Linked DNA regions of Homo sapiens. The protein of the gene in region 1 purifies or fractionates together with the protein of each later gene. This does not show direct contact. Each region holds a gene or a part of one and is shown in the gene's direction. Other genes may lie near its edges.

The links.
Region 2: the proteins of AGA (region 1) and ZER1 purify together in Homo sapiens (affinity purification with mass spectrometry; 3 studies listed by BioGRID and IntAct, with this or other methods). This does not show direct contact.
Region 3: the proteins of AGA (region 1) and ECI1 fractionate together in Homo sapiens (co-fractionation; one large-scale study listed by BioGRID). This does not show direct contact.
Region 4: the proteins of AGA (region 1) and MOB4 purify together in Homo sapiens (affinity purification with mass spectrometry; 3 studies listed by BioGRID and IntAct, with this or other methods). This does not show direct contact.
Region 5: the proteins of AGA (region 1) and AADAT fractionate together in Homo sapiens (co-fractionation; one large-scale study listed by BioGRID). This does not show direct contact.
Region 6: the proteins of AGA (region 1) and SIL1 purify together in Homo sapiens (affinity purification with mass spectrometry; one large-scale study listed by BioGRID and IntAct). This does not show direct contact.
Region 7: the proteins of AGA (region 1) and OXCT1 fractionate together in Homo sapiens (co-fractionation; one large-scale study listed by BioGRID). This does not show direct contact.

Annotation. Positions count from the first base shown.
Region 1 is NC_000004.12:177,435,938-177,439,437, reverse strand, and holds part of AGA (N(4)-(beta-N-acetylglucosaminyl)-L-asparaginase isoform 1 preproprotein), read left to right. Parts: intron 1-580; coding exon 581-693; intron 694-1,918; coding exon 1,919-2,033; intron 2,034-3,086; coding exon 3,087-3,162; intron 3,163-3,500. UniProt on the Homo sapiens protein: Cleaves the GlcNAc-Asn bond which joins oligosaccharides to the peptide of asparagine-linked glycoproteins.
Region 2 is NC_000009.12:128,761,928-128,765,427, reverse strand, and holds part of ZER1 (protein zer-1 homolog), read left to right. Parts: intron 1-3,500. UniProt on the Homo sapiens protein: Serves as substrate adapter subunit in the E3 ubiquitin ligase complex ZYG11B-CUL2-Elongin BC. Acts to target substrates bearing N-terminal degrons for proteasomal degradation with the first four residues of substrates being the key recognition elements.
Region 3 is NC_000016.10:2,241,588-2,245,087, reverse strand, and holds part of ECI1 (enoyl-CoA delta isomerase 1, mitochondrial isoform 1 precursor), read left to right. Parts: intron 1-535; coding exon 536-682; intron 683-1,648; coding exon 1,649-1,770; intron 1,771-1,863; coding exon 1,864-2,042; intron 2,043-3,269; exon of another isoform or gene 3,270-3,453; intron 3,454-3,500. UniProt on the Homo sapiens protein: Key enzyme of fatty acid beta-oxidation. Able to isomerize both 3-cis (3Z) and 3-trans (3E) double bonds into the 2-trans (2E) form in a range of enoyl-CoA species, with a preference for (3Z)-enoyl-CoAs over (3E)-enoyl-CoAs.
Region 4 is NC_000002.12:197,536,566-197,540,065, forward strand, and holds part of MOB4 (MOB-like protein phocein), read left to right. Parts: intron 1-3,500.
Region 5 is NC_000004.12:170,087,157-170,091,350, reverse strand, and holds the start of AADAT (kynurenine/alpha-aminoadipate aminotransferase, mitochondrial), read left to right. Parts: upstream 1-1,394; 5' UTR 1,395-1,614; coding exon of another isoform or gene 1,615-1,660; coding exon 1,661-1,727; coding exon of another isoform or gene 1,728-1,739; intron 1,740-2,786; coding exon 2,787-2,955; intron 2,956-4,102; coding exon 4,103-4,194. UniProt on the Homo sapiens protein: Transaminase with broad substrate specificity. Has transaminase activity towards aminoadipate, kynurenine, methionine and glutamate. Shows activity also towards tryptophan, aspartate and hydroxykynurenine.
Region 6 is NC_000005.10:138,946,224-138,950,368, reverse strand, and holds the end of SIL1 (nucleotide exchange factor SIL1 precursor), read left to right. Parts: intron 1-2,895; coding exon 2,896-3,252; 3' UTR 3,253-3,645; downstream 3,646-4,145.
Region 7 is NC_000005.10:41,867,626-41,871,917, reverse strand, and holds the start of OXCT1 (succinyl-CoA:3-ketoacid coenzyme A transferase 1, mitochondrial isoform 3 precursor), read left to right. Parts: upstream 1-1,492; 5' UTR 1,493-1,559; coding exon 1,560-1,637; exon of another isoform or gene 1,638-2,174; coding exon of another isoform or gene 2,175-2,273; intron 2,274-2,315; exon of another isoform or gene 2,316-4,292. UniProt on the Homo sapiens protein: Key enzyme for ketone body catabolism.

The DNA of each region.
Region 1 (3,500 bases):
GTAACTTTTAAATCTCTTTACTTCTTCATCTCTAAGAAGAAGGCAATGGAAGTTTTGAGACGGAGTTTCGCTCTTGTCACCCAGGCTGGAGTGCAATGGCGCGATCTCAGCTCCCGACAACCTCTGCCTCCTGGGTTCAAGTGATTCTCCTACCTCAGCCTTCCAAGTAGCTGGGATTACAGGCACGTGCCACCATGCCCAGCTAATTTTTATATTTTTAGTAGAGACGGGGTTTCACCATGTTGGCCAGGATGGTCTCAATCTCTTGACTTCGTGATCCACCCGCCTCAGCCTCCCAAAGTGCTGGGATTACAGGTGTGAGCCACCGCGCCTGGCCGGGACGAGAACTCTTATAATGCATGCCCCAAAGGTTTTAAGTGGATCTGTTTTAGGAAAGGCATAAGGAAATCGAAGGTCTAAAAATTGAGTCTCTTAAAACTGTTCATGTGTGAATATTCCTTTGAAAGTCTTTGTGTAGCTCACTTAAGATGCTGCTGACCCAGAATGTCTCTAGTACATATATTTTTGTTGAAAAGACAATACTTGAATAATTTATACTTTCCTTTTTTCCAATCTCCAGCCACCACATTTGCTCAAAGTATGGGGTTTATCAATGAAGACTTATCTACCACTGCTTCTCAAGCTCTTCATTCAGATTGGCTTGCTCGGAATTGCCAGCCAAATTATTGGAGGGTATGCACACATTTAATTTAAAAAAATAAGTTAATTGAAAATATTCAGTGACATCCTTTCTGCTCAGTGTTGCCTGCCTGTTGTCCAGGGTACTGGTTAGCATCCTGGCTGTACATTAGAACTAGTGGTTTTAGTTGACTCTCCAGGTATGGATGTTCCTGAAACACCTCTAGCTGCATTGGGTGCATATCCAGCATGGAGAGCTACTGGTCTCTCACAATAGTTTTCAAACTGAAGTTTCTGCCATGTGGAGGTGGCTGCCTCAATCAGGGCTGCTCTGCTTGTATTTCTTTCTAACTAAGTCTAAAAAATCAGTTTGGAAACTATGAGTCTAAAATATTTCTTAGATTTTACGTGCAGTGTATCCAGTATCTTGTTCTTGACTTGAGGACATGTAATATTACATGTCTAGTATGTTACCAGTGGAATAATTTTTCTTTAATGAGACTTTTGGCATAAATCAGTTTGCCTTTGCCGTACAGGGTCCTTCTGTGGGATATCTTAGTCTCTCATCTATTTCTTCCCTAAGTCCTAATTACTTTCGAGTAGCCATCAAGTCAGAAGTCCCTTGGGTTAGCACTTGAAAGAGGCTAATCATAAAACGAAGTTAGGGGAGGCACCTAGCGCACTGATGTGTAAGACATGAGGAATAGGAATAGGTTTCTTGCTTTAATACCAGTCTACATACACAACCTAAATTTATGAGTTTGCATTATATTCTTGAGCCCTTTAGATTTATAAAGGAATCTTAAAGCACAACTTAGAATATATTCACATAAACCTAGCTTTGAAGAAACAATAAAAGCTTTTAAAACATATTTTACTTTAAGTCTCAGAATTCTTTGGCCAAGGAACAAATTTCTGAAATTTAAAGGTCCAGTGTGTATCTAATTTCTTTAAGGATTAATATCTAATTTTAAAAAATTTTACTATTGTGTTGAGAATTTTAGATATATATAAAGAGAGAAATTAGGGACCTGTGTCATGCAATATAGATACCTCACCTGTATTATTTAATTCTTAGACTAGAATGGATATTCAGTAAAATTATTTATCTTATTTGTTTTTATATAAGACTTAGTGATTTCTTAGCTTTTAATTCTTATCTTTAAGTTACCAGATGTCTTTTTTTGGTTTCTTGCTAGTGTTTAGCGATTGTACATAATTTCTTGGCAATTTCTAAAAATACCCTTTGTAAGAAATAAAACTTAAATCTTGTTTACAGAATGTTATACCAGATCCCTCAAAATACTGCGGACCCTACAAACCACCTGGTATCTTAAAGCAGGATATTCCTATCCATAAAGAAACAGAAGATGATCGTGGTCATGACACTATTGGTAATTTGCCTTTTGTGCAGTTTTTATGGATAAAGTTTAGTTAATTATCTTCCTGTAGCTCTTCCCTATTCTTCTACCAGAAGTTGATTTTGATTGTTTTAACTGCCAATTAAGTGTGCCTCTCTATAGATAGATCCATCTTGTCTTAGGATCTGTATAAAATTTGGCAAATTATTTATACAAGACACCTAAAACCCAATGACTATTCACTTGCGGATTTTTAAATCTTTATTTGACATTTCATTTTTTGGCAGTTTTATGTTGCTGTATTTTAGTGACCTTAAATAACTTTTTCCAAGTTACAATGTTGAAAATTTACATTAGTCTATGTCTTAGTTTGTTTTTCGCTGTTATAACAGACTACCACAGACTGGGTAATTTATAAACAAAAGTTTATTTGCCTCACAGTTCTGGAGCCTGAGAAGTTCAAGAACAGGGCACTGGCATCTGGCAAGGGCCATCCCAAGGTGGAAGTCAAGAGAATGAGACAGGAAATCGGGTAGAACTCATCCTTTATATCAGGAACCCACTCCCTGCGATAATGGCATTAAGCCCTTTTAGCCTAATCGCCTCTTAAAGGCCCCACCTGTTAATAATAATTAATAATGTTAATTGCCTGTTATAGTGGCAGTTAACAAAATACCCAGACTGGATGGCTTATAAACAACAGAAATTTATTTCTCACAGTTACGGAGGCTGGGAAGTTCAAGGTCAAGGCGCTGGCAGGTTCAGAGTTTGGAGACAGCTTGTTTTCCTGGCTCATGGATGGCGTCTTCTTGCTGTGTCGTCACGTGGTGGAAGGGGCGAGGAAGCTCTCTGGGGCCTCATTTATAAGGGATGAATTCCATTCATGGGGGCTCTGTCCTCATGACCTAATGAGCTCCCAAAGGCCTCACCTCTTGATACCATCACCTTGTGGAATAGGATGTTGACATGAATTTGGGGGAACACAAACATTCAGAGCACAGCAGTTATTACCAGTTGCTCAATTATTTGGTTATATTTGAGGTAAACTTTATACACCTACAGTGATTTTTTTTTTTTAACTTCTAGGCATGGTTGTAATCCATAAGACAGGACATATTGCTGCTGGTACATCTACAAATGGTATAAAATTCAAAATACATGGGTTAGTGTTTCCAAAAGAACAGAGCTCTCAAATATACACTGAATGCAGAGCAATATATGCCGGGTGCTATGGGGGTTGCAAAGCACAGCCCTAGTCTCACAGCTGCGATGAATGAGTGTGAAAGAAAATGCAGTACTCTCTGCTGAGTGCCACAGGAGAGGGAGTCACAGCCAGTGCTATAGGGTTTAGGGGTGGCAGAGGTGATCTCTTTAAGCTGGGGTAGTTAGGAACACCAGTAAAGTGATGCTTGGAGCTCAGCCCTGAGTCATGGTAGTTGAGGTTCAGCGCTCCTACTGGCTAGGAAAGTTGTGTGTGTATATGTGTGTGTGTGTTCAGGG
Region 2 (3,500 bases), on another chromosome or scaffold:
CTGCTTAGTTGTGTATGCGTCAGTATCTTCATCAGAAAATGGGGTAATAATCTCTATCTTGCAGTACTAGAGTAAGGGAATTCCAGCCACAGCAAACCTTTGTTCTATTAAACACCAGGCATAAATTGGGCACCGAAGTCAGACACCAAGGATACAGGTGCGTGCGCGCTTGCGCACGTGTGTGTGTGTGTGTGTGTGTGTGTGTGTGTGTGTGTACATGTGCATGGATGCAGGCATGCAAGCAAGCATACAGCTTCTGTCCTCCCAGAGCTCACAGGCAGTAGGAGGGTGTCAGTTGACAAATTGTTATGTAAATGATTAATTAGTTGCAAGTACAGGGTACTAGGAAATATTTTGTCGGTTGAGTAAGAGACTCGAGGGAGTAAAGCCTGTAAGGAGCTTAGGACCACATCTGGAAGCAGCCAACATGGACGTGGTATGGCGGTGCCTTCTGCTGCTGCTGCTGCTGGTGCTGTTTTTCTCTCTCTTCTCTCCCACTTCCTTCATTCCCCAGGATGTCGAATGTTCATGATAGACCTAGTATTAGAGAACATGCAAGAAAAGGGATGGAGAAAGACACAGGGTTCTCCCAGTGTGGTGGTCGGTCATAACCAGAGCTCCCTCTGTCCTCAGTTGCTGGAATTCCAGATGGCCTGTGACTGCCCTGAGAATGACAATCCCTAAGGAATGGAGTAGGTAGAGTGGAGTAGGTAGAGATGGCTGCCTCTGGCAGGTGCCAGGCCCGCAGCTGGATGGGTCTCAGGGCATGGTAGCCCCGGGGCCCTTCAGTCTCTGTGCCAGGATGTAAGATGGCTGCTTCCTCTTCCAGCTCATTCCAGCCCTGAGTGGCAAGGTCAACACTGCTAAGGGGAGGCTAGCAGATGGCGCCATCTACCTGGCTTATGTTTTGGGGGCTTTTGGTGACCGTGACAACTGACGTGGTGGTGTTTCTTCCACTTGGGGAGCATGGTAAGGGCAGAGCAGCTGCCTAGGTAACTGGGCTCAGACCTGCAGAAAAGGCAAAACCCCAGTGGCTCTCCCTCATTCAGAGCCTCCGAGCCAAGAGGCATCATTTGCAGCCACTGGGCGCCCAGCAGTGTCCTGAGTGCAGCAAGCAGGGAGAATGCGAGAGTGTACTATACCTCCCAGGCCTCGTGCAGACCTCTGATGGCGAGTACTTTGTCATTCCTTCCACAGGCCTTTGTTGAAACCTCACCTTGTGGCAGGCCCCACATTGAGTGTTCAGTGCTTCCTTTGTTCATTTAGCAAATAGTCATGGACCTGGGCCCGTAGTGCCAACGTCCCATGCACCCCCTCTCCTTGCAGCTTAGGTACTTCTTTGCTTCCTCCCAAAGCGCCTTCCCCTTCTCTCCCCTCCACCAGAGTTAACTAGGACTTATCTTTTGGGTCCCAGCTGAAATGTCACTTCTTTTTTTTTTTTTGATGGAGTTTTGCTCTTATTGCCCAGGCTAGAGTGCAATGGTGTGATCTTGGCTCACTGCAACCTCCGCCTCCCGGGTTCAAGCAATTCTCCTGCCTCAGCCTCCCGAGTAGCTGGGATTACAGGCGTGCGCCACCAGCCCAGCTTATTTTTGTATTTTTAGTAGAGACGGAGTTTCACCATGTTGGCCAGGCTGGTCTCGAACTCCTGACCTCAGGTGATCCACCTACCTCAGTCTCCCAAAGTTTTGGGATTACAGGTGTGAGCCACTGCACCTGGCCTGAAATGTCACTTCTAAGGATACCTGCTCTGACTCCCCAGTCCAGGGCAAGTCCCCTGATTGGGCATCCAGAGCCCCAGGCCCCTTCTCCTGCAAGACACTGGTCCCAGTTACGCGACAGGCGCTTATGGGCCCTGTAGGTGGATCTGTCTCCCTCCGGAGCCAGTACGCTCCATGTGGTCAAGGACCTTGTCCGGCTCGCTCACCAAGGACCCCCAGTGCTCAGCAGGGACTGAGTGAGCAGGTCCAGGGAGGTGATACCAAACAAGACAGCCTGGTTTTGCCCTCATGGACCTGGCCATCCATCAAGGATGCTGAATCATCAAAGCCACATCGTACCAAGTGTTCATTGCTGTGGTAGATCGGGCCTGTGGGGGGACTCAGCAGGCACACCCTGGTGGGTTAAGCATGGCTTCCCAGAGGAAGTAACTTTGACACTGGGACCATAGGTATCAGCTACGTGAAAGGAGAGTTCAAAGATCATGTGGGCTGGAGTGGCCAGGAGATACTTCCTGGAGGAAGGACATGGAGTGTATTTGGGTAGGGGAGGGGAGAAGGCAGTATTTAAATTAGAAAGTGCAGTAATTAGTTGAATTTGGATGGTCCTGGTTGAAAGAGAACAGACTGGGCAAAGGTCTGAAGGTGACCTGTGCCGAGGGCCTTTTGCCAGGACAGTGAATGATGAGGCCAGGCTGGCTGGAGTAGGGGGGCAGTGGGGACCAAGTAGGCCAGAAAGCTGGCTGTAATTCCGGTGGGCTTGAAAAGAGTTGCTTTCCAAGAGTGGGGACTCTCTGCCAGCAGTGCTCCCTCTGGTTCCAGTTTCCCAGGCAAGAGAGGCTGCTGGGCTCTTAAAGATCTTGAAGCAAATGAAGGCAAAGGAAGGCCATGCCCGGGGCCCAGGCATCCTGGCTTTTGTGCCTTCCCTCGAGGGTGCCATGCTGCCAGTGGGACAGCTGACACAATGAGCCTTGTTGTGGGAGACCCAGGCCGGGGAGCACAGGCCCGGAGCTGGGAGCCAGGGCAGATGAGGTAGGAGAAGGTAATGATTATAACAACAACATAATAACGGTTGTCTTTATTGAGCAATGACTACATGCCAGACACCGTTCTAAGCCCTTTTGATATTATTCCATGGAATCTTCACACCGTGCTGGGGATGAGGTATTGTGCTGCTTCTATTTTAGAGGAAAAGTGACTGAGGCACAGAGAGGTGGAGACACTTGCCCAAGTTTGTCTCCTCGTGAGCAGCAAGGCTGAAATGTGAGCTATGCCTGCCTGAATCCACAGCCCATCCACACACAGTCCCCAGTAGACAGTGGTGCCACAGTTGAACTCAGAACTGGCTGATTCCAAAGCCCAGTGTGCCCTGTGGCTTCCCGCTGGATTTCCTGAGCAGTCTGGAAGGTTTACAAATGGGCACAGAGGGAGGCTCCCAGAAGCTGGGACAATGCTGGGCCCCAGAACTCCAGAACCCTCTAAGTCAGGGGTGTCCAATCTTTTAGCTTCCCTGGGCCACACTGGAAAAGGAACTGTCTTGGGCGACACGTAAAATACACCAACACTAACAACAGCAGATGAGCTAAAAAAAAAAAAAAGTCCATAAATGTCATAATGTTTTAAGAAAGTTTACAAATTTGTGTTGGGCTGCATTCAAAGCTGTCCTGGGCCACATGCAGCCCATGGACCACAGGTTGGACAAGCTTGCTCTAAGAGATGTGAGGGATTCCACGAGACCAGGTTCCAGTCTAGTTTACACAGCTCCCTCTGTTTGACCTTGAG
Region 3 (3,500 bases), on another chromosome or scaffold:
CTACTCCAGCCGTGGGAGGGTCCCTTCCACCTGTGCTCACCCCTCGCCCTTCCTTGGTAGCTGCTGAGAAACCCACACATTCCAGATCATTCTCCCACCCTAGCACTTCCTGGTCCACACGGGGGTCCCTGGCTTGCTTGGCCCTTTGCGGGTAAATGATTCAGAACGTGCAGCTCCTCTGGATTCTCAGGAGTCTTCACCACACCTCTGGGTTCTTCTGCCCGAGCCAGGCGTGCAGAGCCAGAGGGCCGGCGCACTTATGTCCCTGAGAGGTGCCTGGCGCTGCCTGTCCTCTCCTATCCAGTTTGAAGCGGGAAAGGGAAGAATGTTCTGGGAAGTACAGGGAAGCCAGGTCCAGGAGAAGCCTTGGCCGAGTCCCTGGAGCGCCTAGTCCTGGCTCTGTGGGGCAGCACCCACACCCTGAGCGTGACCTGGCCCTGCTGTGCGTCGTGCACCTGGGCTCCCCAGCCCTCCTGCTGTGATGCCAGCTGGGAGGTGGACTCTGATGGGCATGTGGCCCCGGCTCCCCCTGCAGGACCGCCCGGGTGTCTTCTCGGCCGGCCTGGACCTGACGGAGATGTGTGGGAGGAGCCCCGCCCACTACGCTGGGTACTGGAAGGCCGTTCAGGAGCTGTGGCTGCGGTTGTACCAGTCCAACCTGGTGCTGGTCTCCGCCATCAACGTGAGTGTCCCCACTCCCAGGTGGCCTCGCTGGCTGTTCTGGGCCAGCGCCAGGGGGTGGGACAGACACTGTCCTGCCCTTGGAATCTCTCACAGGGGAAGGGGACGGTTGGAGAGGCCCTGAGATGTGCACAGGTGAGCGCCATCGCAGACCACGGGGCGTGTTGAGAAAGGTGGGCCTCGGGTGAGGGCCCTGGCCTGGGTCAATCAGACAAGACCCAGAAAAGAGCCAGTGGGTAGGGACCAGGGCCTGGGGTTGATGCCAGCCTGGGTGGAGGCTGTGTGGGTGAGTGGGTGATCGGACCCACATTTTGGAAACATCACTCCATCCCTTCTGGGGGAAGGCCAGGGAAGCCGAGAACAACACGGGGGCTTAACCTCAGGAACCAGGGTGTCCTGCGGGGTGGCTGTGACAAGCCGGGTGTGGGCCGGAGCCTGGTGGAGGGGAGGGCTGGTGTGAGAGGAAGCCTCAAGGGTGCACGGCCATGCAGACAGGATGGGTCCTGCGCGGGGCAGTGGGTACCTGCAGTGACCACAGGGTGAGTGTGGGGTTCCCAGGACATCCTGGTTGCGCTAGCTGCTGGGGTGGTATCGGGGCCCCCTTGGGGCATGACAGTTATGACTAAATGCTTGTGTGGCATTTTAGCATTGAGTAAAAGCACTGAGAGGACAAGCGACTTGCTCCCCTAACTGAATGGTTTTTAAAAGTGATTTATCTGTTGCCGAAGAACTAATGACCCTCGGCTGAGGACGAGCCTCAGACCCTCCTTGCCGAGCGCTAAGGGGCCAGTTCCTTCCTCATCCATTTCCCAGTGCACACCCAGCCCAGCCCAGACCATTGTGGGTGTTGAACCCTGCGGGGGTCGGGGTGCGCCAAGGGCACAGGCCCTCCTTCCTTGGACCTGGCCCTCTGGAATGTGGTTGGGACCAGCAGCACCTAAGAGCCCTGTCCGGCCTCTCCCTGCAGGGAGCCTGCCCCGCTGGAGGCTGCCTGGTGGCCCTGACCTGTGACTACCGCATCCTGGCGGACAACCCCAGGTACTGCATAGGACTCAATGAGACCCAGCTGGGCATCATCGCCCCTTTCTGGTAAGGCCCTGGGCTGCAGCCACGCTCCATGCTTGTTGTGGAGGGAACAGACCCGCCTGGGGCCATGTGGTGAGTGGGTGTCTGCATTTCCAGGTTGAAAGACACCCTGGAGAACACCATCGGGCACCGGGCGGCGGAGCGTGCCCTGCAGCTGGGGCTGCTCTTCCCGCCGGCGGAGGCCCTGCAGGTGGGCATAGTGGACCAGGTGGTCCCGGAGGAGCAGGTGCAGAGCACTGCGCTGTCAGCGATAGCCCAGTGGATGGCCATTCCAGGTGAGGCACGGGGCATGGCGGGCGCCCGATGATGCTGGGGAGACCAGAAGGTTCTCCACCCAAAGGTTTTCTGTGGACATCGTGACTTCGGGAGACTGTTGATAATCACAGCCATGTGGGTGTCAGGAGGCTGCTGTAACAACGCAGCACAGACCGGGTGGCCCAGACCGCAGAAGCTCATCTCACGGTGCTGGAGACCAGAGGTGCAAAATCAAAGTGTGGGCAGGACTGCACTTCCTCCCTGCGTTCCAGGGAGGCTCCTTCCTGCCCCGCCCACTTCTGCTGGCTCCAGGCCTCCCTGGGCTTGTGGGCGCCTCGCTCTAATCTCTGCCTCCATCCTTACGCAGCTTTCTCCCCTGTGTTTCTGTGGGTCTCAGGTCTCTCTCTCCCTTCTCAGGACACCTGCCATGTGATTTAGGACCTACCTTAAATCCAAGATGATCCCAACTTAATTACATCTGCAGAGACTCTTTCCAAATAAGGTCACACTTCCAAGTTCCAGAGCAGTGGTTAGGGCTTGGACCTATCTTTTGGGGCACACTTTTCAACCTACTACAAAGACAATTGTCCACTTCATAGAAAAAGAGCTGGTCATATCAGCGATGGTATAGACCAGGGCCCAGCAAATTCTGTCTCTAAAGGGCCAGGTGGCTTGTGGGCTCTGTAGGTAAGACCTTTGTAGCAGAAAGCAGCCACAGAGGAGACGTAAACTGACAGGTATAGCTGTGTTCCGGCAAAGCTTTATGGACAGTGGGCCAGGTGCGGTGGCTCACGCCTGTAATCTCAGCACTTTGGGAGGCTGAGGCAGGCAGATCACTTGAGATCAGGAGTTCAAGACCAGCCTGGCCAACATGGTGAAACCCCATCTCTACTAAAAATACAGAAATGGGCCAGGCGCGGTGGCTCACACCTGTAATCCCAACATTTTAAGAGGCCGAGGCGGGCGGATCACAAGGTCAGGAGATCAAGACCATCCTGGCTAACACGGTGAAACCCTGTCTCTACTAAAAATACAAAAATTAGCCAGGTGTGGCGGCGGGCGCCTGTAGTCCCAGCTACTCGAGAGGCTGAGGCAGGAGGATGGCGTGAACCCGGGAGGCGGAGCTTGCAGTGAGCTGAGATCGCACCACTGTACTCTAGCCTGAGCAACAGAGAGCAGGACTCTGTCTCAAAAAAAAAAAAAAAAAATGAGCCGGGCGTGATGGCACGTGCCTGTAATTCCAGCTACTGGGAGGTTGAGGCAGGAGAATCGCTTGAACTTGGGAGGCAGAGGTTGCAGTGAGCCAAGATCATGCCATTGTACCCCAGCCTGGGTGACAGAGTGAGACTCTGTCTCAAAAACAACAAAAAAAATTTTATGGACACTGAAATTTGAGTTTCACATAATTTTCACATGTCACAAAATACTAACCTTCTTTTGATTTTCAACTATTCAAAAATGTAAAAACCAGCCCGGCA
Region 4 (3,500 bases), on another chromosome or scaffold:
CATTTTTGCATAACTGTGTCATCTTTTGTCTTTTTTTTTTTTTTTTTTTTTTTTGAGACAGAGTCTTGCTCTGTTGCCTAGGCTGGAGTGCAGTGGTGTGATCCCGGCTCACCACAACCTCTGCCTCCCGAGTTCAAGTGATTCTTCTGCCTCAGCCTCCCGAGTAGCTGGGACTACAGGCGCAGCCATGCCCAGCTAATTTTTGTATTTTTAGTAGAGATGGGGTTTCACTATGTTGGCCAGGCTGGTCTCGAACTCCTGACCTCATGATCTGCCCGCCTCAGCCTCCCAAAGTGCTGGGATTACAGGTGTGAGCCACCGTGCCTGACTTGTCTTTTTTTTTTCCTTTGTTTCTGTAGAGATGGGGTCTCACTGTGTTGCCCAAGCTGGTCCTGAAATCCTGGGCTCAAGTGATCCTCCCATCTCAGCCTGCCAAAGTGCTGGGATTATACAGGCATGAGCCACTGCACTTGGCCACTTTATGTTTTTGTAGAGGATTACTTCCAGTTCCTAGTCTAGGCTTGGTATCTGATAAGTTACCTGTAAATTATTGCAAACTTCCAGTCTTCTCTTTGGTAAATAGAGATTAATTGTAATCCTGAAGTAAGGAGTTTTGGTGCTTTTTATAATGCCCTTTGAATGAAAAAATTGATAACTAGTGGATAGGTGGAGATAACATTAAAAGTAGATATATTCTGAAGTTACTAGGTGTTTCTTGAAATTATAAATTTTCCAGTGCAAATGGGAGCTGGGATGAGTTGACAGATTATTAATAAATATAGAGAATGCAGTATGTGTTCATTGGGGCTTATTATTTGTAAGTTGATTTTTAGATAAATAGAGTAGAAATATGACTTTTCCTGAATAAATTAGACCATGTTTCCTGTGTTGTGTGCCTCAACTTGTAGACAAGGCACTTTTTAAAAATATTTACTTTTTGATGCTGCATGCTTCTTTAGAAATGGCTAAGACATTATGTCGTGTCATAACAGTTCAGCAATTTCAGGATGCTAAGACTTCTTTGTATCCTTTGCCAGTTTTTAGACAAATTACTTGACTATTTTCTAACTTTTTAATATATATGAATGCACAATAATTCAAAGTACGAGTCTGTAGATATTTTCCCATTTTTACAACCCAAGACAGAGAGCACTTTAGTGTAGTACATCCTTTGCTTTATTTTTATCAGCCTTGAAAATAACTGCTTTCTTATGTTTTTTTTCTTGAGACAAGAGTCTCGAGTCTCGCTTTGTCACCAGGCTGGAGTGCAGTGGTGTGATCTCGGCTCATTGCAACCTCCGCCACATGGGTTCAAGCGATTCTCCTGCCTCAGCCTCCCAAGTAGCTGGGACTACAGGCACACGCCACCATGCCCAGCTAATTTTTGTATTTTTAGTAGAGATGGGGTTTCACCATGTTGGTCAGGATGGTCTTGATCTCCTGACCTCACGATCTGCCCACCTTGGCCTCCCAAAGTGCTGGGATTACAGGCGTGTGCCACCACACTTGGCCGTTTTTTCCATTACAAGCATAATTCCTAACAAATAGGGGCTGATTTTAGTGTTACAAGGGTTTTTTTTTTTTCAGATCTAAGAAAACATTTATCTCCCTATTTAACTTATTCTATGAAACATTATATAAAACATTACATAAAACTTTACATGAAATATTTCTCACAAGTATTTCATTTGTTCTGGTGCTATTTTTACTTTTGTTATTTTTTTCTACTAGCCACTTTTTGGTCTGGGTTGTATATTAACTATCGTATATATTCTTTTATCTCTTTATTGTATTGTGTACATTTTATTAGTTGACCAGGAAGAGGTTTTTTTTTTTTTTTGCATACATCCTTTATTGATTTGAGGCTGTATACTTGCCATTTTTAGTTAATGCAGTTGATTATATAATGATGTTAATTTAGATTGGGTCATGACTTCAGTCATATCTCCCACTAGCTCATATTGAGTCTTAATGATTAGGAAAAAGTACTCCTTTATGTCCGGATACATGCGTGGTGACTGGAATGTAGGCTGGATTCCAGCTCTGGTTGGTCTCTTCAGCTGCACAACTGTGTACATGTTAGCCCTGTATTAAATTAACTTGAAGTTGTGAGTTTTGCATTATTTGCCACAGATTATACCCACAGCCCTGCTGAATCAACTTAATTTTGCTTTTGGCTATAAAAGGGTTGGGTAAGAAACTTACCACAACCAGTCTTTATTACCACTTGGTGGAAAACAACTAAAAAACACATAACATGCAGTCTACTTGATAGGGGACAGTAGAGGGTGATACGGTGATTTAGAAATAATGTTATTTTTGTAATCTAAGGACAGCATTATTAGGCATCTGGAAAGGAAATGCAGTTACAAACAACTGAAAATTTGACCCTTGCCTTTTTGTTTTCCTCTGTTACAATGTGCAGTAAGTAAGTAAATGAAGTTTTTCCACCAAATTTGTTCACATATATCCTGTTTTTTTCTTTTTTGGGGGGATTTTTTTTTGTCTTCTGATTATATAGGTGTTAGCTTTGCATTGTTTTGGGAACCAAAATGATTCAATTTTTCTGATGGGGAAACATAGTATTGATTTATCTAACCTGATACATTGAACTAAATATTAATAGGTAGGACTTTAGGAGGGAACACGTTCAGTGTTTTGACAGCTGTAAAACTACCTTTGTGACATAGAAGATTGTCTTTTTATCAAATAGCTGTCTAAAACTGATGGCCTCAGTGCAATTGTAATGTAATTTTTTTTTTTTTTTTTTTGAGATGGAGCCTTACTCTGTTTCCCAGGCTGGAGTGCAGTAGTGTGATCTTGGCTCACTGCAACCTCCGACTCCCAGGTTCAAGCAGTTCTCCCTCCTCAGCCTCCTGAATAGCTGAGATTGCAGGCACCCGCTATTATGCCCGGCTAATTTTTGTATTTTTGTGGCGATGGAGTTTCACCATTTTGGCCAGGATGGTCTTGAACTCCTGACCTCAAGTGATTCACCTGCCTCGGCCTCCCAAAGTGTTGGGATTACAGGCCTGAGCCACTGCGCCCTGCTGTAATTTCTTTGTATGTTTCTATGTACCAACATTTTATTACCCTCCAGTTGCTGAATTTTTCTACAATTCAGAAATTTTCTCATATGCATATATAGCTCCTGTGAACATCTTTATACATTTATCTGCATGCAGATCTGATTATTTCATTACAATAGATTCTTAGAAGAATGACTTAGTCGAAAAGTATACACTTCCTAAAAGTCTTGGTAAATATTTCCAAATTACTTCCCTGAAAAATTGTACTAATTTCTAGTATATAAGAGAATGATCAGCTCACTTAACTCTGGTATTGAATGTTATGAGGGTTATTGGTTTTCTATTTTTAATCTGTAAGCCTTTAGAAGAAATGTGTCATTGTCAGTTTAGGTGGTTTTGAGAATGGTAATGAGGGAGGAGGGATGATACTGATGGGATTCTCTTTTTGCAGCTAATATTCTAAAAATTGCT
Region 5 (4,194 bases), 7.3 Mb from region 1:
CCCGGGTCTGGCGGAGCCGGCCCGCCGCTCTGAGTGCCGGCCCGCCAAGCCCACGCCCACCCGGAACTCTAGCTGGCTCGCAAGCGCCCGCACAGCCCTGGTTCCCGCCCGTGCCTCTCCCTACACACCTCCCCGCAGGCTGAGGGAGCCGGCTCCGGCCTCCGCTATCCCAGGAAGGGGCTCCCACAGTGCAGCGGCGGGCTGAAGGGCCCCTCAAGCGCGGTCAGAGTGAGCGCTGAGGCCGAGGAGGCGCCAAGAGTGAGCGAGGGCTGCGAGGGCTGCCAGCAGGCTGTCACCTCTCAATACTTCCTTTTTGTTATTTAGCTGCTAGCACAAAGATTTTACTGGGTTATCTCAGCCTTTTGCTGCCAGGACCTAGATAAAAGCAGTGGCTCCTTGACCAACCTATTAGGTAAACTTAAAAGAGAGCCATTTGGCAGTGAGTCAATAATCATCTAGGAAGTACTCAGTAAATTTGTGCTGAATGAATGAATCTGTTCATTCATTTTAATAACCATTAAAGAATTTTTTAAAGTCAAAGAGAGGTTGTCTGAAACCCTTCCCTCATTAAGTGCTCACATTAAACCTTGTACATTCCATTTTGGTGATTCAGGAAGGAGAAATTGCAGAAAAGTTGAGGGAGGTGGGGAGTAAGAAGGGTTATTTTGTAAGAAAAAAAAAGGCAAGGTGCTAGACCCAAAAAGATCCGGATATTCACTTCCAACATAATTCTTATTTAACGAAAGGTCAGAAATTCAATGTGAGGGTAGACACTAAAATTGAAGAGACTCAGAGTGATTTTTCAAAAATTTTTGTCAGAACTCCATCGTCACTCCAAAATGCTGAGATCTTCGAGAAAGTGATGTTGAAATTCGTCTTGGTCGCCGGGATGCTTCCCAGGAGAGTGCCCAGAGTTTCACTAACGAAAGATGGGTATTTAGCATAGCCATGGTCTGAGCGGGCAAAATGCACAGTCCCAGTGACTGAGAGGAGGCCAGCGGAGCGCGCGGGAACGAGGGTGGGGCCGCTCCCGGCTGGGCGCAGCTCGGGAGCCCCCTGCAGTGGACCCAAGTCGCCGCCAGATGGTTCCCGAGGATTAGGATCACGGGCACTTCCGGTCCCCTCGGTCAGCCCCTGGGCTAGCCTCTGGGCCGGCGCCTAGGCCGGCCAACGCGGACGCCGGGTTGCGGTGATTCCCAGCGGCGAGGTCAAGAGTCATTGGCCTGGGGCTGCAAGCGCCTCGCGCCTGGGCTACCCCGCGCCCTGCGCTCTGAGGGCGATGATCCGGGACGGGGAGGCGCGCGCCGCGGGCGGCCATAGGCCACGGCGCGGGGCGGGAGGGGGCGCGGCGAGGCCCGCGGCGGGGCAAAACCGGCCTGGGCCCTGGCGGCCGCAGGAGCGCGTGCGGCGTGGACTTTGCCGGGCTCGCCACACAGCCCCAGACCCGTTTAGGACCGGGAGACCGAACGCAGCGTCCAGCCGGGGAGTTTCGGCGGCGTTCTCCGGGCACCGCGCGCGGGAAGCCAGACGCAGCGGGGGGACACATCTCGCGGTGGCGTTGCCAGAGTGAGGAGTTAGCAGGCAGGACTTGACGAGGCTCTTTGGTTTTTCTAGTCCTCAACCACTGAAGAAGAAGCTTGATGCTTGGCTGTCAGAAGACATGAATTACGCACGGTTCATCACGGCAGCGAGCGCAGCCAGAAACCCTTCTCCCATCCGGACCATGAGTGAGAAACGGGGTGACCATCTCTCCTTTGGGGTGGGGCATTCCTCGCACAGCCTCTAAGGAGGGTTCCCTAGCAAGCCACCGCTTGGTTGCATCCATGCGTACCCCTGTGCACGCTCGCGGTGAGCCAGGCTCTGCGTGCAGAAATGAAATAGACACAGCCTTTGTTCTCAAAGAACTCGGGCTGAAACGGAAGGCGGGTATTTCTGCTGGAGCAGAGTAGGAGCAACAGTAGAGAGAGGCGCAGACTGCTGTGGGGCACGGCCTTGGAAGGGAGGGGGCGTGCTATCAAGAAAGGCTCTTCCTGGGAAGCTGAGAAGGGGCATGCACAGCGTGCAGATGGGTGTACAGTGGAGAGGGCCAGGTAAATGGGAGAGGGGTGGGCCATGAAGCTCACAGACAGGTCGGGGCTAAGTGGAGGAGGGCTTCTGCTATTGTGGCCCTTTGCTGTCTTTCTGATCCCTCTGCCTTCTCTTTGGTCACCTTCATTCTTTAGTCCCTCCACAAGTGAGGTGCCTAGAAAAAGTTATTCTGTATGTTTATTTTAGACTAGCTTTTGTCTTAGTCCATTCAGGCTGCTATAACAAAATACCACAAACTGGGTAATTTATGAACAATAGAATTATTTCTCACAGTTCTGGAAGCTAGGAAGTCTAAGATCAAAGTGCCAGCAGCTTCTGTGTCACCATGGTGAGAGCCCTTCCTTATAGACAGAGCCATCTTGCTGCATCCTCACGTGGTAGAAGGGAGAACCTATGTCCTCACGTGGCAGAAGGGCCAAGGGCATTCCCTCAGCCCTCTTTTATAAGTGCACCAATCCCATTCAGGAGGGTGGATCCCTCCTGACCTAATCACCTCTAGAGACCCCACCTGTTAAAACTATCACATTAGTATTAACTTCCAAGTATGAATCTGGGGGAGCACCAACATTTAGACCATAGCACACTCTATCACTAGAAATCGTTAAACTTTATAGTTTTATTGACTATAATGCATGCTTAACTATCCGCTTATAACAATCTTCAATGAAATTGTTTCTTCTCTTCCATGTGTATTGTAGCTGACATATTGAGCAGAGGACCAAAATCGATGATCTCCTTGGCTGGTGGCTTACCAAATCCAAACATGTTTCCTTTTAAGACTGCCGTAATCACTGTAGAAAATGGAAAGACCATCCAATTTGGAGAAGAGATGATGAAGAGAGCACTTCAGTATTCTCCGAGTGCTGGGTAAGTATCAATACTTAACATAATTTTATTGGCTTATTTTCATAAGAAATATTCTAAGGCCCATTGATAAAGAATATTAAAGAAATATTCTAAGGTCCATTCATAAATATTCTAAAGCCATTGACCCATTTGGTCATTCAATGACCAAATACTCAGTCATTGAATACTAACCAAATGAGTATTCAATGGTTAGGAAGGTCTGGGGAAAGGTTTTCAAAGGATAATTAAGAACAGAAAGGATATTGAATGTTTAACACTCCTCAGTGATTGCTTCTCAATCGCAAATGACCAAGAAGGCTTCTAGAAGGAAATACCATTAGAGCTGAGTCCAAAAAAATGAGAAGATGTCCAGGTGAAACAAACATATCAGGAGAAATGAAGAAACGGAAGATCCAGGAAGCTTCAACTTTTTAAAGTTTAAGCATCCTGGATCTTCCGTTTCTTCATTCTATAGTCTAAACAAGCAGTCATGCAAATACATTGAATATAGTCATTCATTTCTATAGTCTAAACAAGCAGCCATTCAAATACATTGCCCTCATAGGTTCAAATGTCTTTAATTTCTTAAAGGCAAGCTGAAACATATACCTTGACTTTCTTAGCTGGTCTTCTTCAAGTGATAAAGGATAATTTATAGAGAATCTATAAATTATACTTTATTAAAACCTGCTTTGTTCTGTGATTGAAAAGTGTATTGAAATGTTATTCATGTATATATGTGTTAGTTATGTAATATGTTAAATATACATAGGCTTATTCAAACATTCCATGATACAAACAACTTATTGAGTCTGAACTTCTAGGTAGCCATAGAACTCTTCCTAGAGAGAACAAAGAATCGATTATGCAACGCATGCGCTAAAGACTTCAGGTTTGGAATAAGAAAGATGTAGATTCAAATCTCAGCTCATTTATTACGTAATTGACTTTCTGAGAATTTCTGGCTGAATGACTTACAGGAATTTCCTAATCTCTAAGTCTACTGCCTATCTTTTAAATAGGAATATTCATACTGGCAAAAAGCATTTGAGGGTTTTTTAATTGAGTGTACAAAGTGCTTGATAAAGCTGTCATTTATTATTTCCTGTCTACTACTGTTACTATGATTTTTACTACTATGAATTTAAATATACATTTTTTGCTTTAGAATTCCAGAGCTTTTGTCCTGGCTAAAACAGTTACAAATAAAATTGCATAATCCTCCTACCATCCATTACCCACCCAGTCAAGGACAAATGG
Region 6 (4,145 bases), on another chromosome or scaffold:
CCCAACTCTCTGTCTTTGCCTGTTTCTCTCTCTTCTCTTGTTAAAGCTGCAGAAATCCAGTTTCTTAGAACAGCAGGCAGCCATGTGGTGCTCAGATCCAATTGATAAGGCCTGGGCACAGTTCAGGTTCTGGGACTGGGCCAGTGAGCCTGGAGAAGGACATGTCAGCTGGCTGGGCATTTCCCAGGGAAACTGGGCTCTGTTCTCTGGTGTCTTGGGTGTGTGTCCCTGCTGCCCCCAGCCCTGGCATCCTGGGCACTATGGCACTGACACATTGCTAGCACACTACCACCAGGCAGGCTCACCAAGGCTGCCCCGAGGCTGCCGGCCCCGGGAGCCTGCCTCTGGAAGCTTTGGGGTGCTGACATGATTGGGGAGGGGAGGACTGGCATCTCTCTACAAACAGTACAGAAATGGCCCTCTTCTTTCAGGGAGGACAGCAGATAAATTTCAGCCAGAGAGATTTAGGACACACTGTACTTGGGCTGAGGCAGTCAGGGCTTCTCTGTTCTTGTGATTTCTTTTTTCTTTTTTCTTTTCTTTTCTTTTTTCTTTTTTTTTTTTTTTTTTGAGACAGGGTCTCTCTCTGTCACCCAGTGGCACGATCTTGGCTCACTGTAAACTCTGCCTCCCAGACTCAAGTGATCCTCCCACCTCAGCCCCCTGAGTAGCTGGGACTACAGGTCCATGCCACCATGCCTGGTTAATTTTGTTCGTTTTTTGTAGACAGGGTCTCACTATGTTGCTCAGGCTGGTCTTGAACTCCTGGGCTCAAGCAGTCCTGCCTCAGCTTCCCAAAGTATTGGAATTATAGGCGTGAGTCACTAAGTCCAGCCTCTTGCAGCGCTTAAGAATGAAGACCTAGCCAAGCTAGGGGTGGGTCCAGAGCTGCCTGAAGGTGGAGGGACATGAGCTGTCCACCACGATGGAGGGGTGCCATGCAGCTCGGGGATCACTGCAGCATGTTGTCATGACAGCCAAGGACTGTGGAATTCCCATGGGCAATGTGACACCCCCATCAGGGTGCTGGGGTCTGCCAGGCCCCAGGCAGTCCTCATATGTACCTTGGCCTGTGAGAGGACCTCTACTGAGAGACCATGCCCTGACATCTGGGCTTCTGCAGTGGTGAGATGCCTGCCTGGGGTTTGGATTCCATGGCCTCTGGTGCATCTGAGGAGCTGAAGGGCCGCAGGGGGACCCTGCCTGCCTGTGCTGCCTGCTGTGCCGGGTGCTGGGAAAATAATCCGCAGTCCCTGTCGTCCCTGAGCTTTCAGGCAGATGTTTATCAGAGAATTCCCCTGAGCTTGTGTTGTAGTCTGTCTGCTGCTGCTTTAACAGAATACCCGGGACTGGATAATATAAAGAAAAGGCAGTTTTTGGCTCATGATTCGGGAGGCTGGGAAATCCACGATTGGGTGGGTGCATCTGGCGGGAGCCTTTGTGTTGCATGACAACATTGTGGAAGGTGAGAGGGCAAGAGCACTTGCGGAAAAAAGCATGCTGGGCCGGGCTTGCTCTCTAGAATAACAACCGCTCTCCCGTAAGGAACCCGCTGCCCTCCTGACCTAGGCAGCTCCTCTCAATACTGCTGCCTTGGGAATTAAGCTTCCAACACTTGAACTTTTAGGGAACACACTCAAACCACAGCAGCATATAAGCAGAGAAGGCCAGTCAGGGGAGGCCGGTCAGTGGCGGTGAGGTGTGCAGGGAGCCGTGGAGTGAATGGGGCCAATGCGGGGGTGCACCTGGAAGTCGGAGCTGCGCCTCCAGAGGCCCCAGGGGAGAGTTAGAGTGACAGGAGTGGGTGTGAGTGGGTCCAGGCCGCGCACAGTGGGGGCAGAGCCTGCAGAGCCTCGCAGTCCCAGGGAAGGGATTGATTTTGTCTTTATCACCCGCAATGCCAGGCTGTGAGGGTTTGGGGGCTGGAGGAGAGGGTGAGAGCAGGAGGCACTGGATCGCAGGACACAAGGGACAAAGGTGGAGCTGACAGAATTGGGGTGTGTTTTGGAAGCGAAGCTGGCAGGACTGAGGGGTGAAGTAGGAAAGGACTAGGGGATACCTCTCAGCCTCTCCTGTCCCAGGATGCAGGATTGCACCCCTCCTCAGTTTCCTCTGCCAGCCCCAATCAGCCCCACGACTTCCTGCTGCCGCAGGAAGCACAGGTGGTCCACTGTGGCCTCCTCTTCTCCTGGGCTTCCCTCTTGCCTTGTGCATCTTCCCTGTGCTTCATTCTCCCCTGGAGTTAGGGCAGGCATTCCTTCTTTCTCCATACAGGCACACTTCCTACAGCTGCACGGGAGATCTCTGCCCCCTCCCAACCCTCTACCTCTGACCTTCAGGTAACCTGCCTGCTTGTCATGGTTCAGGTGTTGGCTTTCCCGCTGCTGGTAGCCCGGCAGGATTGGCTCCCACCATGTTCTGCTGATAGAGCTGGGCTTCTGCGCTTTACAGACAGGCTGAGTTTCTCCACTTAGGAGGTGATGACGATGAGTCTCAGGGAGGCTAAGTGCCAGCCATGGTCATTCAGCAAGTCAGTGGTGGAGCAGGAATTTGAAGCCAGCCTGTCTGCCTCCATGCTGCACTGTTAGATTACATTTATGCTATTTGGGAATTAGTTAATTTTTATTCTCCTGCTAGACCTTAAGCTCCTTGAGGGTAAGACTATGTCTCCATCGTGGTTTCTTCAGCACCTGGCACCACACAAGTGTTTCTGTTGGTGGATGAATGAATGAATAGACAGACAGACTTGGGGATAGAGGAAGAGGTGGGCCCTCAGGGGTCAGCCTCGTGCCTTCCTGTCTGAAGGGCAGAGCTAGCCAGGTGTGAGCTAACTGCTCCCTGTGTGTTCTCTCCCCACCCCCACCCTACCTGGCCTGCGGCTGTGGCGGATGGCAGATGTTCGCCGAGGAGGAGGCTGAGCTGACCCAGGAGATGTCCCCAGAGAAGCTGCAGCAGTATCGCCAGGTACACCTCCTGCCAGGCCTGTGGGAACAGGGCTGGTGCGAGATCACGGCCCACCTCCTGGCGCTGCCCGAGCATGATGCCCGTGAGAAGGTGCTGCAGACACTGGGCGTCCTCCTGACCACCTGCCGGGACCGCTACCGTCAGGACCCCCAGCTCGGCAGGACACTGGCCAGCCTGCAGGCTGAGTACCAGGTGCTGGCCAGCCTGGAGCTGCAGGATGGTGAGGACGAGGGCTACTTCCAGGAGCTGCTGGGCTCTGTCAACAGCTTGCTGAAGGAGCTGAGATGAGGCCCCACACCAGGACTGGACTGGGATGCCGCTAGTGAGGCTGAGGGGTGCCAGCGTGGGTGGGCTTCTCAGGCAGGAGGACATCTTGGCAGTGCTGGCTTGGCCATTAAATGGAAACCTGAAGGCCATCCTCTTTCTGCTGTGTGTCTGTGTAGACTGGGCACAGCCCTGTGGCCGGGGGGTCAGGTGAGTGGTTGGGTGATGGGCTCTGCTGACGTGCAGGGCTCAGCCCAGGGCATCCAGGAACAGGCTCCAGGGCAGGAACCTGGGCCCAGGAGTTGCAAGTCTCTGCTTCTTACCAAGCAGCAGCTCTGTACCTTGGGAAGTCGCTTAATTGCTCTGAGCTTGTTTCCTCATCTGTCAGGAGTGCCATTAAAGGAGAAAAATCACGTAGAAAGCTTCACACTAGTGCTGGCACCCCCCAGCTGTGAGGTAAGGCAGGGAATCATCTCACTGCCCCTCTATCGGTGCCCACATAACAGCCTCAAGGCCGCTGACCTGGCCGGCGCCTGAGGCCTGTCCATACACTGGTGCTGTGGTGACCCAGGCAGCTGATGGGCTTGACAGCTGCTGGAGTGATGGGTGCTGGAGCAATGGGTGCCGGGGTGGGGTGCTGAGAGGTGCTGGACTCTGGAGGCCCAGGGGCCAGGCCTTACTCTGGGAGAAAGCTGGCAGTGGGAGCCCAGGGGAGCCCAGGCCTGCCTGGCCCACCTGACAGGGGAGAAGTGCCTCTCTGTGGCCTTGCACCACTTCTGTGTCCAAGCAGAAACAGGGCCAAGCCCAAGGAGGAGGCCTCAGAGCTGGGAGCAGCCGTGCCTGGCGAGTCCCGGCCCCTACCCAGGCTGGCGGAGTCCCGGGCTGGAGCTGGCTGCAGGTTGCCATGGCAACCCGGG
Region 7 (4,292 bases), on another chromosome or scaffold:
GAAAAGCAGACTCAATTGGAATGCTAGTTTTTTTCACATTGTGTAAGTTAAAGGTACAACAGCTGCTATATGCTAAATTATCACTAGTTATGGGACTTTAGTTACAGTACTTGAATTTCCCCCCAATCCAACTTCTTAAAATGTGTTGAAATACCAACTAGCAATAAGTTAATTTCTCCAGTGTAATTGAATAGTCTAACTTGGTATCTTACTCCTTAACTGATTTTGACTAAAATTATAATATTTACAGGAAAAAAAAAAGTTCAGAGTTAAAAGAATACCATGAAAGGGCAAATGATTTTATGGACAAACTTTGAACTGCATCTTCACTGTTCATTACCTTACTGTATTTGCTAAGGAAGCTAAGATCTCATTTAATTTTTGTGTGCTTTGCTTTGGTTCAAAACTAACATCACATTCTCAGAACTTGGTCAGGCCTTAATCAAATAAAATGCTATTGAGCTTCCACTTGGTCTTTCCACTCTGCTAAGTGCAAAGACAGTTCTGGAGAAATCAGTCGTGGCTCATGTCCTCAAGGAGTTGGTCAAAAGACAAGGCTTGGCGAATATGTACGTGCCATGTCAATGAACTGCTACAATGGAATAAACTTATAATAATGCCTAACATTTATTGACTCCTCATAATAAGGCCATAAACTTTGCATGAATTAACTCATAGAAACGTTATGACGTTGTATCACAAGCAATCCTAATTTGCAGATGAGGACACTGAGGCTTAGGGAAGTTATCTAACTTGCCTAAGGTTAAAGCAATATACTGCTTTTATGGTTGCATCTTTAGTAATCTCTGGGGTTGCTGGGACTCCAGTGCGAGAAAGAGCCCGAAATTCGCAAACTTGGATGATGGGGAAGAAAAGGTGTGCTAAACTCAGGTCACAGAGGTCCAGTCTTAATCTTGTTCCTCTGCAAGCCTTGTTGCTCACACCTCTTGACCGACAGTTCGAGGCAAGTGCTCACAGCAAACTTACTCTATGTAAGCCAAGGCCAGATGTGGGGAGAAGGGGCTGAGAAATGTTAGAAACGTGAACGCAGTCCAGGCGGGAGAAGAGAAGGGGGCCTCGAGGGGTGCCCCTATGCAGCCCACACACACGCCAGGCACTAACTTGGAAAAGCAACAAGCTTGGCGGGAGATCCTCCCGCGGCCGGAGGGCCCTGAACCCTAGGCCAAGACTCATCCACAACCTAGGGGGAGGCGGCCACCAGCGCCCCATCGAAGCTAAAGGGCTGACAGAAGGGCTGTAGCGGCAAGTGTGCGCCAACACAGCTGCACACGCCCAGACACCTGAGGCGCTGAGAGGAACTTCCCCGCGATCCGCCCCGGCTGCACAGAGCCTCTTCTCCCCGCCGGGGCCCCGCCCAGCCTCACTTCTTTTAAAAGCAGCAGCCAGCAGCGCGCCGGTGGCGTGCGGCTCGAAAGGCCGGGAGGACGTCATCGACGCGCTGTCGAGCCTCCAGCCCGCCCGGGTTTCCTTCGCAGTCGCGCACCGACGCTCAAACGCGCGCTCCAACCCGCAGCCTCCTCCTGCCTCACCGCCCGAAGATGGCGGCTCTCAAACTCCTCTCCTCCGGGCTTCGGCTCTGCGCCTCTGCCCGCGGATCTGGGGCAACCTGGTACAAGGTAAAGTGCGGGGGAAGAGGAAGGCCATGGGCAGGAAGAACGTGGACCAAACCCTGAGTGGTGCCCGCGTTTTCTTCTCTGCCCCTACCCGCTCTCTCCAGCCTGGGATCTGGCATCCGTGGCGCGGTGCCCTGGTCACGGACACGCGGCGACGCGTTCCTGGCCTCGCCGGCCCCTCGGATGACCGCCTTTGCTTGGTTCTGCAGTCGCTTCCCTGATGGAGCGAGACGCGATAAAGAAGCGCGCGGAGAGGCTGAGAAGGGGCGGGAGGACTCCTGGCAGCGCTCCCGAGCCCTTTGGCGCTCGTCGGCTTCCCTCCTGGCACCCGCCCTTGGATAGGGACTCTGAGGGTCTGAACGGGGGGAGGAGGGCGCCAGTATATGGAGGTTTAGGAGTGAGGCAACAGCGGGTAGGTTTGCGCCCCCGATGTTGGATCTCTGGGCAGAGGAACCTCTAGAGGCCCAGAACCTGAGGCTGGGTTAGCCATGGCTCTGCTCGAGTTCACCGGGGCTGGATGCCGGGTGCGGCGGGTGTGGAATGCCGCTCCCATCCTCTCCTCCCTATTTGGCTCTGCTGCCCCGTAGACTGGAGCGCTCGCCAGGGCGTCTTGCCGGCCAAGCTGGGAAACCATCCGAGGTGTGTCCCTGGCCCGCGCCTGGGCTGCAGGGGAGGACAAACCTTTCTCTCGAGGCCCCTCGTATCCGGGTTAGGGGCTTTCGGTTTTCAGAGCCCTTTGAAATCCTTTTTGTGCCCCACTGCCGACTCTCCACCGAGTGGTATCCGGAGGCATTCCCACCGTGGACTGACTTGTGGTTTTGCCTTATGCACTGTCCTCGCTTGTAAGCCCACCCCTGTCTGGAGCCCTAGGAGCGAATTACAGGACCAGAGCGCCAGGTCCAGGAGGGTGGCTTTATCCCCGCCGTCTCAATCGCGGGAGCCTCTTCCTTGGTATTCAGTAATAGGTCTGAGCTTGACAGCGTGCCATGCACACGGTGCTTACTCCTGAAGCGTGCCTGCCTGGCCCCATTGCTCTTTCCTGCATCCAATCCCTGACCGCTGAGAACACAGAGGAGCCACTGAGCTCCTTCGGTAGGTGCTAGGGAATGGTTCAGAACTGGACCATTTTACTCTTAAATGCCTCTTAGGAAGCATTTTTATAACTGCAGATAGACTTGGATATATAAAGCATTATTAAAAGGGAACTTGACCTTCAGTGAGATTGCAGCGGTGCTGAAGCTAATACAAACCAGAGCACAGCGATACCCTTGGGCCGAGGTCAGGAACGTTCCTTCTTTTGACAGTTACTGATTTGCCCAACTGTAATTTACTCACTTCAAGTCTTTTCCATCTTGAGTATATCATTAAACCATTTCCGAAGCTCAGCAAACCTCATCTTAGAGGGACGAGATGCAAATAAGGGGTTCTGCTATATCTCATTAAAAGTTCATACAGAGTTCAAACTTAGCCCTGTCAGGCTTGATTATCATAGGTCTAACTCCTGCCTTCCACTATTCCCCTAGCTTGTGGCTCTTAGTGCCCTTATTGTTTTTTTTTTTTTGAGACGGAGTCTCGCTCTGTCGCCCAGGCTGGAGTGCAGTGGCGGGATCTCGGCTCACTGCAAGCTCCGCCTCCCGGGTTCACGCCATTCTCCTGCCTCAGCCTCCCAAGTAGCTGGGACTACAGGCGCCCGCCACTACGCCCGGCTAATTTTTTGTATTTTTAGTAGAGACGGGGTTTCACCGTTTTAGCTGGGATGGTCTCGATCTCCTGACCTCGTGATCCGCCCGCCTCGGCCTCCCAAAGTGCTGGGATTACAGCCCTTATTGTTTAGCACTTTAAATCCTCACCTGCTGCTTCTGTTGAACTGTACCACTTATCTACTTGTTTAACTTTTCAGATGTGTATATTGTCTCCTCAACCAGATGACAGTTCCCCGATGGCAGAGACCATATTTATGCCTTACACTTAGTCTCCCTCAACAAACACACTACTCTGCATAGATCAGATATTCTACACATGTTTAAAGTACGGATGAGAGAACCCTCCAGGCAAACAGAAACCTTGAGTTTTTCCACTAAACATAACTAACAGCTAAAACGAGATAGTTATTTTCTTAAATGTTTAACATTTTTATAATGGGCAGGCCCAGTGTCTCGCAGACCTGAGAGTGCATCAGCATTACCTGGAGGTTTTCTAAAACAGATTGCTGTACCCACCCCCAGAATTTCTAATTTAATAGGTCCTGGGTGGGGCCCTAAACTTTGCATTGATAAGTTCCAGGTGATGTTGATGCTGCTGGTCTGGGGACTGACTGCCCCTTTCAGAGTTATCTGGCATGGACTTAGGTGAAAATAGACTATTGGGAGGTATCTTCTTTTCTTCATTATTACTGAGGGGCAGTGGGGAGCATTTAATACTATTTTCACTATAGAAAATTATTAGTGGGAAAAAGGTTATAAGAGTACCACTAACACTTTACCCACCATTCATCCTTGACCCTGTCTTTTCCCAAATCTCTTTCCAACCTCTGACTCTCCTGAGCTGCAGTCCTTCTGGTGCAACTGGTGAACTTCACTTGGATGTCAGTTGGTGCTTAAAGCTCTTTCTGATCCAAAGCAAACTAGCCATAAAGTGGCTTTCCCATTCCTTGTTTTG